2 separate regions of the Homo sapiens genome follow, and region 2 is linked to region 1. Evidence: fine-mapped expression QTL. A gene starts in region 1. The other region holds a variant in brackets. All regions are shown on one strand. Distances are between the middles of the regions. Region 1 holds the start of TPSG1 (tryptase gamma 1). Region 2 holds the start of LOC124903623 (a long non-coding RNA gene).

Evidence for each region. PIP is the estimated chance that this variant, and not a neighbour inherited with it, causes the effect.
Region 2: its variant is fine-mapped to the expression of TPSG1 in unexposed skin (GTEx, PIP 0.97).

What each region holds. Positions count from the first base shown.
Region 1 is chr16:1,222,607-1,227,964 of GRCh38, forward strand. TPSG1 (tryptase gamma 1) reads right to left here and starts at 2,662. Exons shown (of 6, transcript NM_012467.4): 1 at 2,601-2,662; 2 at 1,996-2,022; 3 at 817-988; 4 at 46-311. The coding sequence starts at 2,646. It overlaps LOC124903621, which reads left to right and starts at 2,645. Exons shown (of 2, transcript XM_047434997.1): 1 at 2,645-2,955; 2 at 3,848-4,634. The coding sequence starts at 2,645. The coding sequence ends at 4,634. RefSeq lists a silencer at 1,514-1,700.
Region 2 is chr16:1,200,967-1,206,324 of GRCh38, forward strand. CACNA1H (calcium voltage-gated channel subunit alpha1 H) reads left to right here. Exons shown (of 35, transcript NM_021098.3): 9 at 697-1,486; 10 at 3,044-3,492; 11 at 4,148-4,299; 12 at 5,138-5,323. LOC124903623 (a long non-coding RNA gene) reads right to left here and starts at 745. Exons shown (of 3, transcript XR_007064938.1): 1 at 678-745; 2 at 366-423; 3 at 1-255. The variant C/T (reference allele first, on the strand shown) is at 3,403.

The DNA.
Region 1 (5,358 bases):
GCCCTTGCCTTCCTCCATCCCAGCATCCCCACGGGGGCTCCTCACCTCCCTCCCGCGTATAGCCCCAGCCGGTCACCCAGCACCGGATCCCAGGGCAGAAGTCATCTGAGGCCTCCGGGAGGCAGACGGGCAGGATCCGGCTGGAGAGGGTCACGGGGACACTGAGCTCCACCAGGGCGATGTCCCCGCTGGTCCCCGGCTGTCCTGAGGGGCTGGAGTGCAGGATGATCTGCCTCACGGTGGAGAAGTGGGGAGACAGAGTGATCTCCAGTTCCCCCAGGTGCACCTGGTAGTCGGATGAGTTCAGGGACCTGGGAGGGAAGGTGGCTGGGTGAGAGGGGCCAGCTGCGGAGGCTGGAGGTCAGTGTCGGCCCCGCCCAGACCCTACCCTTGCAGGCATCCGAAGCCCAGCTCTTCCCTCCTAGGCTTGGGACGCAGAAAGCCTGGGCAGTGGCCTCACCCTGCAGGGCCCAAGGACCACGGCAGCACCTTGGGGTTCCTGCCAGCCCCTGGAAAAGCCAGCAGCATGCCCGACACCAGCAGGGGCTGGTCAGGAGGCAGATTGCAAGCTCAGCTCCACGTGAAGAGACCGAGGGGAGGGAAGGAGGGAGGGAGCTGTCCATCCCTAGAGGTGAGCAAAGAGCTGCAGAACCTCACAGAAGGTGGGCAACCAGCTCCTCCCTTTCCATTGGAAGGAAGTAGGCTCAGAGTTCCCAAGCCTCGGAGTGAGTCAAGACCAAGTGGAGGCCTCTGCGCTGGCGCATGCCCCACTGGGGCCTGGACATTGAGACTGCCCCTGCCCACCCGGACACTCACCCGGAGAAGCAGTGGGCAGCTGTGAGCACCCACTGGGGGCTGAGCAGTGACCCGCCGCACACGTGCACCCTCCGCAGGCGGAGGCTGGCCTGCCATGGCCATGCGCCGGCCGGGGCAGCGTGACCCCCCACGATCCGGCCGCCTGCATCCGAAACCTGCGGCCGGCCACACCCTAAGTCGAAGGAGGAAGGGGTGCCTGGTGGGGATCCCAAGAAACCCACTGCACTTCCTCCATGAAGCCTTCCCTGACCACACCTCCCTGCCTTCTTGGGGACTTTGCTCTTCAGCTCTCTCGTCTGCCAGACTCTCCCCAGAAGCATCGTGGGTGCAGCAGAAATGACGTCTCAGGAGCAGTGAGCGCGCCTGGGGCTCAGGTCGTCCTTTCTAAGCACCATGCTCCACAAACTAACCAGGGCTCCCGGAGGCGGTGGAAAGGCTGCAGAGGGCCCCTAGGCGGCTAGAAAGGGGCTCAGAACGGTGGAGCCCCCGAGAAGGCCCGGGGTGCTGGGGGTGGCTGCCTAGTGGGCCCCGGTTTTCCTTCAGGGGTGGTGGAGATATTCGAAGCTGGATAAAATTCGGGGGGCGGGGGGCAGACAGCACTGTCCAAGGTGCTCGGGGCCTCTGAATTGGACGCTTGATAATGTAACTTTATCTTCTGTAAACTTCACCTCAGTAAGTTAAGAAGAAATTAAGAGGAAGTCAGCTGGAGACCCACTGGCCACACCTGGGTCTGCCTGAGCTGGATAATTGTGCTGGTGATGGAGTGTGGCCACTGGGCTGAATGGAAGGGAAGCTGGGATGTAGACAGACAGAGATGTTTATAGATAGGCAGCGGGTGTGGGGTGGGGCACCGGCTCTCCCACACGGCAAAGCCCCCAGCTGGTTCCAGGGCCACGGTGGGGACGCTGTGGGGAGAAAGTTCGAGGAGGGCCAGGTTGTTTCATGGCCTCAGAGCATCTCCCAAGGTACAGACTGACTACAGTGGTGGTGGGGGAGACAGCCCTGCAGCACACCCCGACCAGCCCCACTCAACCGAGAGATGCGAGCAGAAACCACGGCGACAAACTATGACCTCCCCGGGCCCCCATTGGGACCCCAGGGAAGGAGAGGGTCACCGAGGCCCTCCTGCCAGGCCTTGCCTGCACCCTCCCCCACACCCCACACCTGTCAGAGACGTACCTGGCTGCAAAGTCCTGAGGGACACACCTGTGGGAAAGACGAAGGGCCCAGGATGGAGGGGGCTGCCAAGGAGAGGGGTGTGCGGGCTCCAGAGGCCCCTGCCAGGCCTCAGGGCGGCACTGGGGTGGGGCCTGGTCCTGAGCAGAGGGGCCCGGCCTGGTGAGGCTGGGTCAACTGCTGTCTCACTGGCCCAGGGCTGGGTGGGACAAGCCACAGGCCATAAACGGCAGCTGGAGGCCGGGAGCTTGGCCTCAGGCCTGGGCCTCCTCCCCGCCCTCCAGGTCCTGCTCAGGAAAGAAATCACCAGTGTTCTAGGGCCTGGGACTCCTGGCACCCCCAACTCCCACCCGCACCCCCAACTACCACCCGCCCTGCCAACTCCTGCACCCCCAACTCCCACCCGCACATCCCTCCTGCCTCTCCCCAGCACGGACAGCTGGGCCTCCAGCCAGGGGTGCAGTCTCTTCAGAGGAGACACGGGGCCCCACAGGGTGGGGACTCAGCATGTTTCTCCGTCTCAGACCAGCCCCCAGTTTCACCCCCATCAGGGGTCCAGGCAGGAAGCAGATGCCCCCCCATCCCCACACCCAGGCCAGGTCACCCACCGGGCACAGCCAGGAGCAGCAGGAGGCCACAGGCCCCAAGGGCCATGGTGTCTGCCCACTGTAGGGAGAAGGAGGGCCAGCCTGACCCTTGGACCTGCTGGGCGTGGGGGATAGGGGTGGCCACACACCTGCTGTCAGGCAGGGCGGGAGGACGGAGGAGGAGGCCGGAGCTCCACAGACGGCCCCACCTGTTCCTTCTGCACCTCAGAGAAGGGTCGTCACCTCCATTTATCCCTGTGTGGACGCCACAGCCCTGGCACCAAGTGGCCGGCTCCGTCAAGGGAAAGCGGGGAAGGACAGAAGGCAAAAGTACTTCTCACCTTGTCTCTGCTCCGGGGCCAGGGCTGAGGGAGGGGTGAGTGTTCCTCTGAGTGCCGCCCCCTCCAAAAATTACTCCCTGGTTCCCTCGGGGCACGCCACCCCCTCTCCTTCATCCTCTGGGAGCCCAGTCCTGGGGGTTCTTCAGGAGGGTCCCAACTCAAGGCCCAGCAGCCCTTTGGAGACAGCTCAGGCCCTCGTGACAACCACTCTTTGAGAAGTCCCTGTCCCCACGTCCGGCAGCAGGTCCTGTGCTCGTGCGGCAGATCAGATGGGCACCACTTCACGGCCCAGCCTGGGTTGGCCCTTCCTAACCGTCCTGGCTGCCCCAGCCTGATGACTCAGCTGATTAGGGGCCCTGGGCAGCGCCCGGGACTTTCCTGCCGCCCTCCCCAGATCCAAATCACAGGCCAGGCTGGAGGGTCCAGCTGAGACCTTCTAGGTCAGGGATCCCCTCTTTGATGTGGGGAAACTCAGCCACGGGTTGGGGGGAGTTGCCTGACCACCCACCAGGATGTGGCCTCCCAGGCACAGACGTGGCCGCCTGCACGCCAGCACGTGGGGTAGCCAAGGCTCAGAACTGGAGGTTCAGTGTTTTTCCTGGTGACCAATAAGGACAACACCAGCATGCGGGGCCAGCAGTGCACCCACGGCCGGGCACCCTCCTCCCTCACGGCAGCCGCACACCTGGAGGGGGCGCCTCAGGGGAGGCAGGACAGTCCCACCCCACACAAGGGAGCGGGGTCTGAGCCACGAGTCCCCGGCCCAGGGTGCCCCTAACAGGGCGATGTCACCCAGTGGGGAGGGAGCCTGAGGGGCAGGGTCTTCATGGAACCAGGTCCTCTAGTCCTGACCTCTAGGGCTGTCCCCAGGTCCCCACAGGTGGGGACTTCAGGGCCCTCACCTGTCCCAACTCAATTCACCTGCAGCACTGGGGACCCCGTCTTTCTGCCTGTGCCCCAGCACGCCACTCCCCGCAGAGTGCTCCACACGACCCAGATTGCAGGCCTGCTGGGGAGGAAGAAGCTTCAGGCACCATCCCCTGAGCCCCAGCAGTCCTGTGACATGGTGCCGTTCACCCCCACCATTGGACAGGAGAGCCAACTGAGGAACCGGGAGGGGGGCCTGGCCCTGGTGATTGCCCCCAGCTTGGTGGGGTCTCCTGTTGTCCAGGACCCTGGGAGACCTGGGATTGCTTCTGTCTGCGGTGGCCTGGCCACCTGGGTGCCGTCCCCTCGGTGGGAACCCTGTCCCCCCCACTCGCCCTCCGCCTCACACCCCCCTGTGACGGGGAACCAGGGCCTCCTGCCGGCAGCCACGTGGGTGACCTTGGAGCAGGTGCCCCCGTCCCAGTCAAAACGCAGGTGGCTGCAGCCCTGGCCAGCAGCCTGCCTGCCACGTCCTGAGAGACCCTTCCTGCTGAAGCTGACGCTCACATCTGCCAGTGTCACTGGGCTGAGCTTCACTGAGCTTCCCAGGGATCTTAGATCTAATTTGGGAAGCTCTGGGGCTGGAGCCCGCCCTCCCCCTCCACCCAGTGACCGGCCCCTGCTGTCCACCTTTCCTTACACCGGCAGCCCTGTCCTGAGGGGCCGTCTTGCTTCCCTTCGGGGTCTCATCCCTCCGACTCCCACCCCGCAAAACCTCCAGTGGGCGTGTGGAAGTGCTTCTAGGGGCTCAGTGTTCCCTGGGGGTCACCCCGTGCTGTCTCTGTGATCCCTAGAAGGTGGGATGGGCCAGAGGGAGGAAGAAGGGCCCGAGTTCCAGGTCCATCTTCATTAACAAGACGCTGGGCCTGCAGAACAGGAGCCGAGGGATGGGCCTTCAGGGGCTGCAGAGGCAGAGGTCACGTGGGGCTGGAGAGGGCACTGGGAGTTGAGTCCACCCCTTGTGAGGACAGAGGTCATTTGCAGAGATTCGGGAGACTAAATGCACATCTCTGCATCTAACAGTTGGAAGGAAAGAGTGAATGTTTCTTTAGAGAGTTGTTTTCAACCAGAACAGCCCCGCATTTCATTCCTGAGTGTAATCATGTTCAAATATAAAATGCAAACAAGAGCCCGGGATAAAATGCAACACTCGCCAGACGCAGAGGGCTCACCTATTGATGTAGAGAAAGACCTCAAAATGAATTTGAAAATGTCAAACTCAGGCCGGGTGCGGTGGCTCACGCCTGTCATCCCAGCACTTTGGGAGGCCGAGGCGGGCGGATCACTTGAGGTCAGGAGTTCGAGACCAGACTGGCCAACATGGCGAAACCCCATCTCTACTGAAAATACAAAAATTAACTGGGCGTGGTGGCTCACTCCTGTGGCCCAGCTATATGGGAGGCCAAGATGGGAGGATCGCTTGAGCCCAGGAGTTAAGGCTGCAGTGAGCCCTGATCACACCACTGCACTTCAGCCTGGATGACACAGCGAGATCCCGTCTCAAAGCAAAC
Region 2 (5,358 bases), 22 kb before region 1:
GCTGGGGACCCCAAGAGGCCATGGCATCACCTAGACAGGGTCCAGGCCTGTGGGTGCTGGCTCAGGGCTGAAGAGCCAGGAACACCCTGGGGAGTGCATAGCCTCCCAGCACCGCTTTCCACGGGCGTGTGTGGCCCCAGGTGTGCTCCTTAGCTGGTCCTCTCATAGGCCCCAGTGGGTCCTGGCAGAGTTGGGTTAATCAGGCCGCAGACGTCTGTGGGGTCCTAGGTATACCTAGAGCCACCCTGCGGGGACCTAGTAGGTAACAGAAGCAGACAGACGTCCCCAGCTTGTTCTGAGAGAGCAAGCGAAGCGAACGATTAGAGACTTGCTGCACGCTGGTCCATGCTAAGGAGGAAACGCACCTGGGGTGCTGGGGAGGGGAGAGTGGCCACCGTTGAGAGGGTCATCTCAAGGCCAGATCTGCAGGTAAAGGAGGGGCCGAGCCACATGGAGAAGCAGGAAAGAGGGTTCCAGGTCTTTTGTCCAGATAGGCACAAAGCAGCTACTGTATGCCGTCTGCTCCAGACGTGGGGGCTCAGCACTGAACACCGCAGCAGCCTGCCCATAGCAGGGCACCTCGCCCACTGTGCCTGTGACGCGGCCCCCACTCGAACAGGCAGCGCACAGTAGGGCTCAGTGGCGAATCAGAGACTCGCTCACTCACTGCCACTTACCCGCCCGCCCCCGTCACAGGTGGGCTCCTTCTTCATGATCAACCTGTGCCTGGTGGTGATTGCCACGCAGTTCTCGGAGACGAAGCAGCGGGAGAGTCAGCTGATGCGGGAGCAGCGGGCACGCCACCTGTCCAACGACAGCACGCTGGCCAGCTTCTCCGAGCCTGGCAGCTGCTACGAAGAGCTGCTGAAGTACGTGGGCCACATATTCCGCAAGGTCAAGCGGCGCAGCTTGCGCCTCTACGCCCGCTGGCAGAGCCGCTGGCGCAAGAAGGTGGACCCCAGTGCTGTGCAAGGCCAGGGTCCCGGGCACCGCCAGCGCCGGGCAGGCAGGCACACAGCCTCGGTGCACCACCTGGTCTACCACCACCATCACCACCACCACCACCACTACCATTTCAGCCATGGCAGCCCCCGCAGGCCCGGCCCCGAGCCAGGCGCCTGCGACACCAGGCTGGTCCGAGCTGGCGCGCCCCCCTCGCCACCTTCCCCAGGCCGCGGACCCCCCGACGCAGAGTCTGTGCACAGCATCTACCATGCCGACTGCCACATAGAGGGGCCGCAGGAGAGGGCCCGGGTGGCACATGCCGCAGCCACTGCCGCTGCCAGCCTCAGACTGGCCACAGGGCTGGGCACCATGAACTACCCCACGATCCTGCCCTCAGGGGTGGGCAGCGGCAAAGGCAGCACCAGCCCCGGACCCAAGGGGAAGTGGGCCGGTGGACCGCCAGGCACCGGGGGGCACGGCCCGTTGAGCTTGAACAGCCCTGATCCCTACGAGAAGATCCCGCATGTGGTCGGGGAGCATGGTGAGGACCCAGCCCCACCCCACGGAGGAGGCGGTGGGACCTAGGCAGGGCGGGCAGGGTCTCCGGTGTGTCATTCCCACACCCATTGTGGGCACTCTGATGAGCCCAGCTTTGACTTGTGAAACAGACCAGCTATGCCTCTGGAGCCCATAAGAAGGGGAAAGAGGCAGGTCCCGCCCCTGACAGCGCCAAAGCAAGCTCCCGGTGGCCCACAGCTCATGGCAGGAGTGGTAGCCGCGGAGGTGGGATTTTGAATCTGACAAGGCTTGTCAGACCCTCCTGGGGCAGCATCCCATTGCCCCTGCCTGGCCCCGAGAGGGACCGTATGCTTGTGTCCACAGCCTGGACGCTTCCCTGGAGGACGTGCAGCGTCCTTCGTGGCCATTGAGGCTGGCCCCCCTTCTAGGTGGGGACGCTGAGTGGGGGAGTGTGGGGGAGGCACCGTCGCAGAGTCACCGAGAGTCAGGAAGAGAGGCTGGCGTGGGGTTCTCCTATGCGGGGCCTGGGCCTCTGTCCACCAGGTGAATGGGAGACTCCAGGGCCCCCAGATGGTAGGGTTCCACACGGGCCTGGGGGCCCTTCCTGGTTCTGTACACAGATGTAGAGACGCAGGCGGGGGTGTGTCCCCCGTGGTGGGGAGAGGTGCGAGCGAGGGTGCCGAGGGTGCCGGGATGCTGTGTGCCCTCATGCGCTGGTACCCAGGGCGTGCAGACGAGTGTCGGGCGCATGCTCCTAGCCCTTGAATTGTGGGAGTCCAGCCGCTGTGTGTTATAAGAGGCACACGGGCTCCAAAGACAGCACGAAAACATCACAGGACGGCTCGATGGTCATTTTCATGTCAGTTTCGTGTTGGAGTAACCATGGTTTGCTCGCATCGAGTCAAACAGAATCCCGTAGCTAACTTCGCCTGTGTGCTGTGGCTGCTGGGAAGTGGCTGCTGTTATATTTCTGTGGATGGCACAGCCCAAGGCAGGCAAACGTCTCTGCACCTAAGTGTGTCCCTGCCCCAGTACGTGAGCAGGAATGCGGCTGTGGGGGTTGGGTGTGTGTGCCCAGGTGTGTGCCCAAATGTATGGTTTTTCTGATGTTTGTGGCTGCTGTACCCACGAACTAGTGGGTTTAGAACAGCGGAAAATCACTCAGCTCTGGAGGCCAGTGCTCCAAAATCCAGGCCTTGCAGGGTTGCTTCCTCTGGAGGCTCTAGGGGAGAACTCTCCTCGCCTCTCCTAAGTTCTGGCGGTTTTGCAAGTCCCCGGCTTGTCGACACGTCCCTGCGGTCTCTCTGTCTTCACATGGCTCTTTGGTTTCTTCTTATTGGAACAGTCGTGGCTCAGGGCCCTCCCTACTCCGGGATAGCTTCATTCCTCATTGTAACCCATGACACCTGCAAAGATCCTGCTTTCTGTGAAGTCCAGTCACAGGTTCTGGAGGTTGGACTCTGGATGGATCTTTCTGGGGGGGACACATTCACCCCACCGCTCCTGTGTGTGAGGGTTCCCGGGCCCTTGTGGCAGCACCACTGAGTGGGCCTGCCCCTGTCTGTGCCCTCTCCCGCAGGACTGGGCCAGGCCCCTGGCCATCTGTCGGGCCTCAGTGTGCCCTGCCCCCTGCCCAGCCCCCCAGCGGGCACACTGACCTGTGAGCTGAAGAGCTGCCCGTACTGCACCCGTGCCCTGGAGGACCCGGAGGGTGAGCTCAGCGGCTCGGAAAGTGGAGACTCAGATGGCCGTGGCGTCTATGAATTCACGCAGGACGTCCGGCACGGTGACCGCTGGGACCCCACGCGACCACCCCGTGCGACGGACACACCAGGCCCAGGCCCAGGCAGCCCCCAGCGGCGGGCACAGCAGAGGGCAGCCCCGGGCGAGCCAGGCTGGATGGGCCGCCTCTGGGTTACCTTCAGCGGCAAGCTGCGC[C/T]GCATCGTGGACAGCAAGTACTTCAGCCGTGGCATCATGATGGCCATCCTTGTCAACACGCTGAGCATGGGCGTGGAGTACCATGAGCAGGTGCGGGCTGGCCTGGCCACGGGGTGGGCTCCCTGTCAGGCTTGCAGGGCCTGGGGAGTCTCAGGAGGCTTCCAGCAGCCCCGATGCCTGACCTGATGGTAGGACGGTCAGGCAGGGCTCTAGAAAGCCGGGGATGGTGAGGATAGGAGACCAGGTGTGCCGAGCCTCCACTGGAGGGGATCTCCTTGGATTCCTGGCCTCCTCTCTAGACGGCAGCTGATTAGGCTCCTTTTGAGATGCTGCTGCAGCCCTCTTGACCCTTTGGGTCTTGATGCAGCCAAACCTGCTCCCAGATCAGTGCCGGGGAGGGGTGGGAGCCGTGGGTGGGGCCCCAGATCAGTGCCGGGGAGGGGTGGGAGCCGCGGGTGGGGCCCCAGATCAGTGCCGGGGAGGGGTGGGAGCCGCGGGTGGGGGCCCAGATCAGTGCCGGGGAGGGGTGGGAGCCGCGGGTGGGGCCCCAGATCAGTGCCGGGGAGGGGTGGGAGCCGCGGGTGGGGGCCCCGATCAGTGCCGGGGAGGGGTGGGAGCCGCGGGTGGGGCCCCAGATCAGTGCCGGGGAGGGGTGGGAGCCACGGGTGGGGGCCCCAGATCAGTGCCGGTGAGGGGTGGGAGCCGCGGGTGCGGCCTCCTGAACTGTCCCCACCTCTGCCTGCAGCCCGAGGAGCTGACTAATGCTCTGGAGATCAGCAACATCGTGTTCACCAGCATGTTTGCCCTGGAGATGCTGCTGAAGCTGCTGGCCTGCGGCCCTCTGGGCTACATCCGGAACCCGTACAACATCTTCGACGGCATCATCGTGGTCATCAGGTGGGTCCCCACCCTCTCCCCAGGAAGAGGGGCCCGGGAAGCTCCACTCTCTGGCAGAAATCCCACCTGCAGAGCAAAACCCAGAGCACAGGAGGAAGTACGACGATAGCTCTTTATGACAGGCCGTGGGAAGCAGGTGCTTGGTGACCCCAGTGGCCCAAGGGACCGTCCTGGGCAGAGTCCCCTCCCCAGACGCTATGCTTCCCTGCAGGCACTACGGGGTGCGCACCTGTTAGGTCAGCTGCGTCTCAGATGTTTCTAGAAACTAGCGGAGCTGTTTCCTGCAGGAACAAAGCAGGTGTGGGGTGGCCTCAGGGCCGAGCGAGAAAGACCAGCTTAAAAGGCTGAATCCTGCTTGCTGCTGGAGGAGCATTTGCTACAAGAAAATTAAACCAGAAAGGATTGGGAAAATTTGAGGGGAAACGCCCCCGGTCTTCCCCTAGGAGGACGCTCATCCCTCAAGAGTAGAGAGGGGTGCAGGGTCTCCCATCCTGGGGCGGGGAGGGAGTGAGCAGAACGGACAAGCCAGGTCTGGCTGTGGAAGGCCCAGGATAGGAGAGCGCCCTCGGCGAAGGAGCTTCCCTGCCCTGGCCAGAGCCAGGCTTCTTTCCCAGGGGGCACTGGGGGCCGGGTAGCCCCCGGGGCCATCAGCGGATAAGCGGCTTTTGAGGTGCTTCCGCAGCTGTTCATGCACCTTGATGCAGCCATACCCTCTCCCATCTGTGGGATGCAGCACAGGCCGCTGTGGCTCCCTGGCTGGTGACCCTGCTTCCAGTGGGACGAGGGCCTGGGGTCAGGGATCGTGGCCCCGCTGACCCTCGCCCCCACCTGTCCGCAGCGTCTGGGAGATCGTGGGGCAGGCGGACGGTGGCTTGTCTGTGCTGCGCACCTTCCGGCTGCTGCGTGTGCTGAAGCTGGTGCGCTTTCTGCCAGCCCTGCGGCGCCAGCTCGTGGTGCTGGTGAAGACCATGGACAACGTGGCTACCTTCTGCACGCTGCTCATGCTCTTCATTTTCATCTTCAGGTGGGCGCAACCCCCCTCCCGGCCCGCCCAGTGTC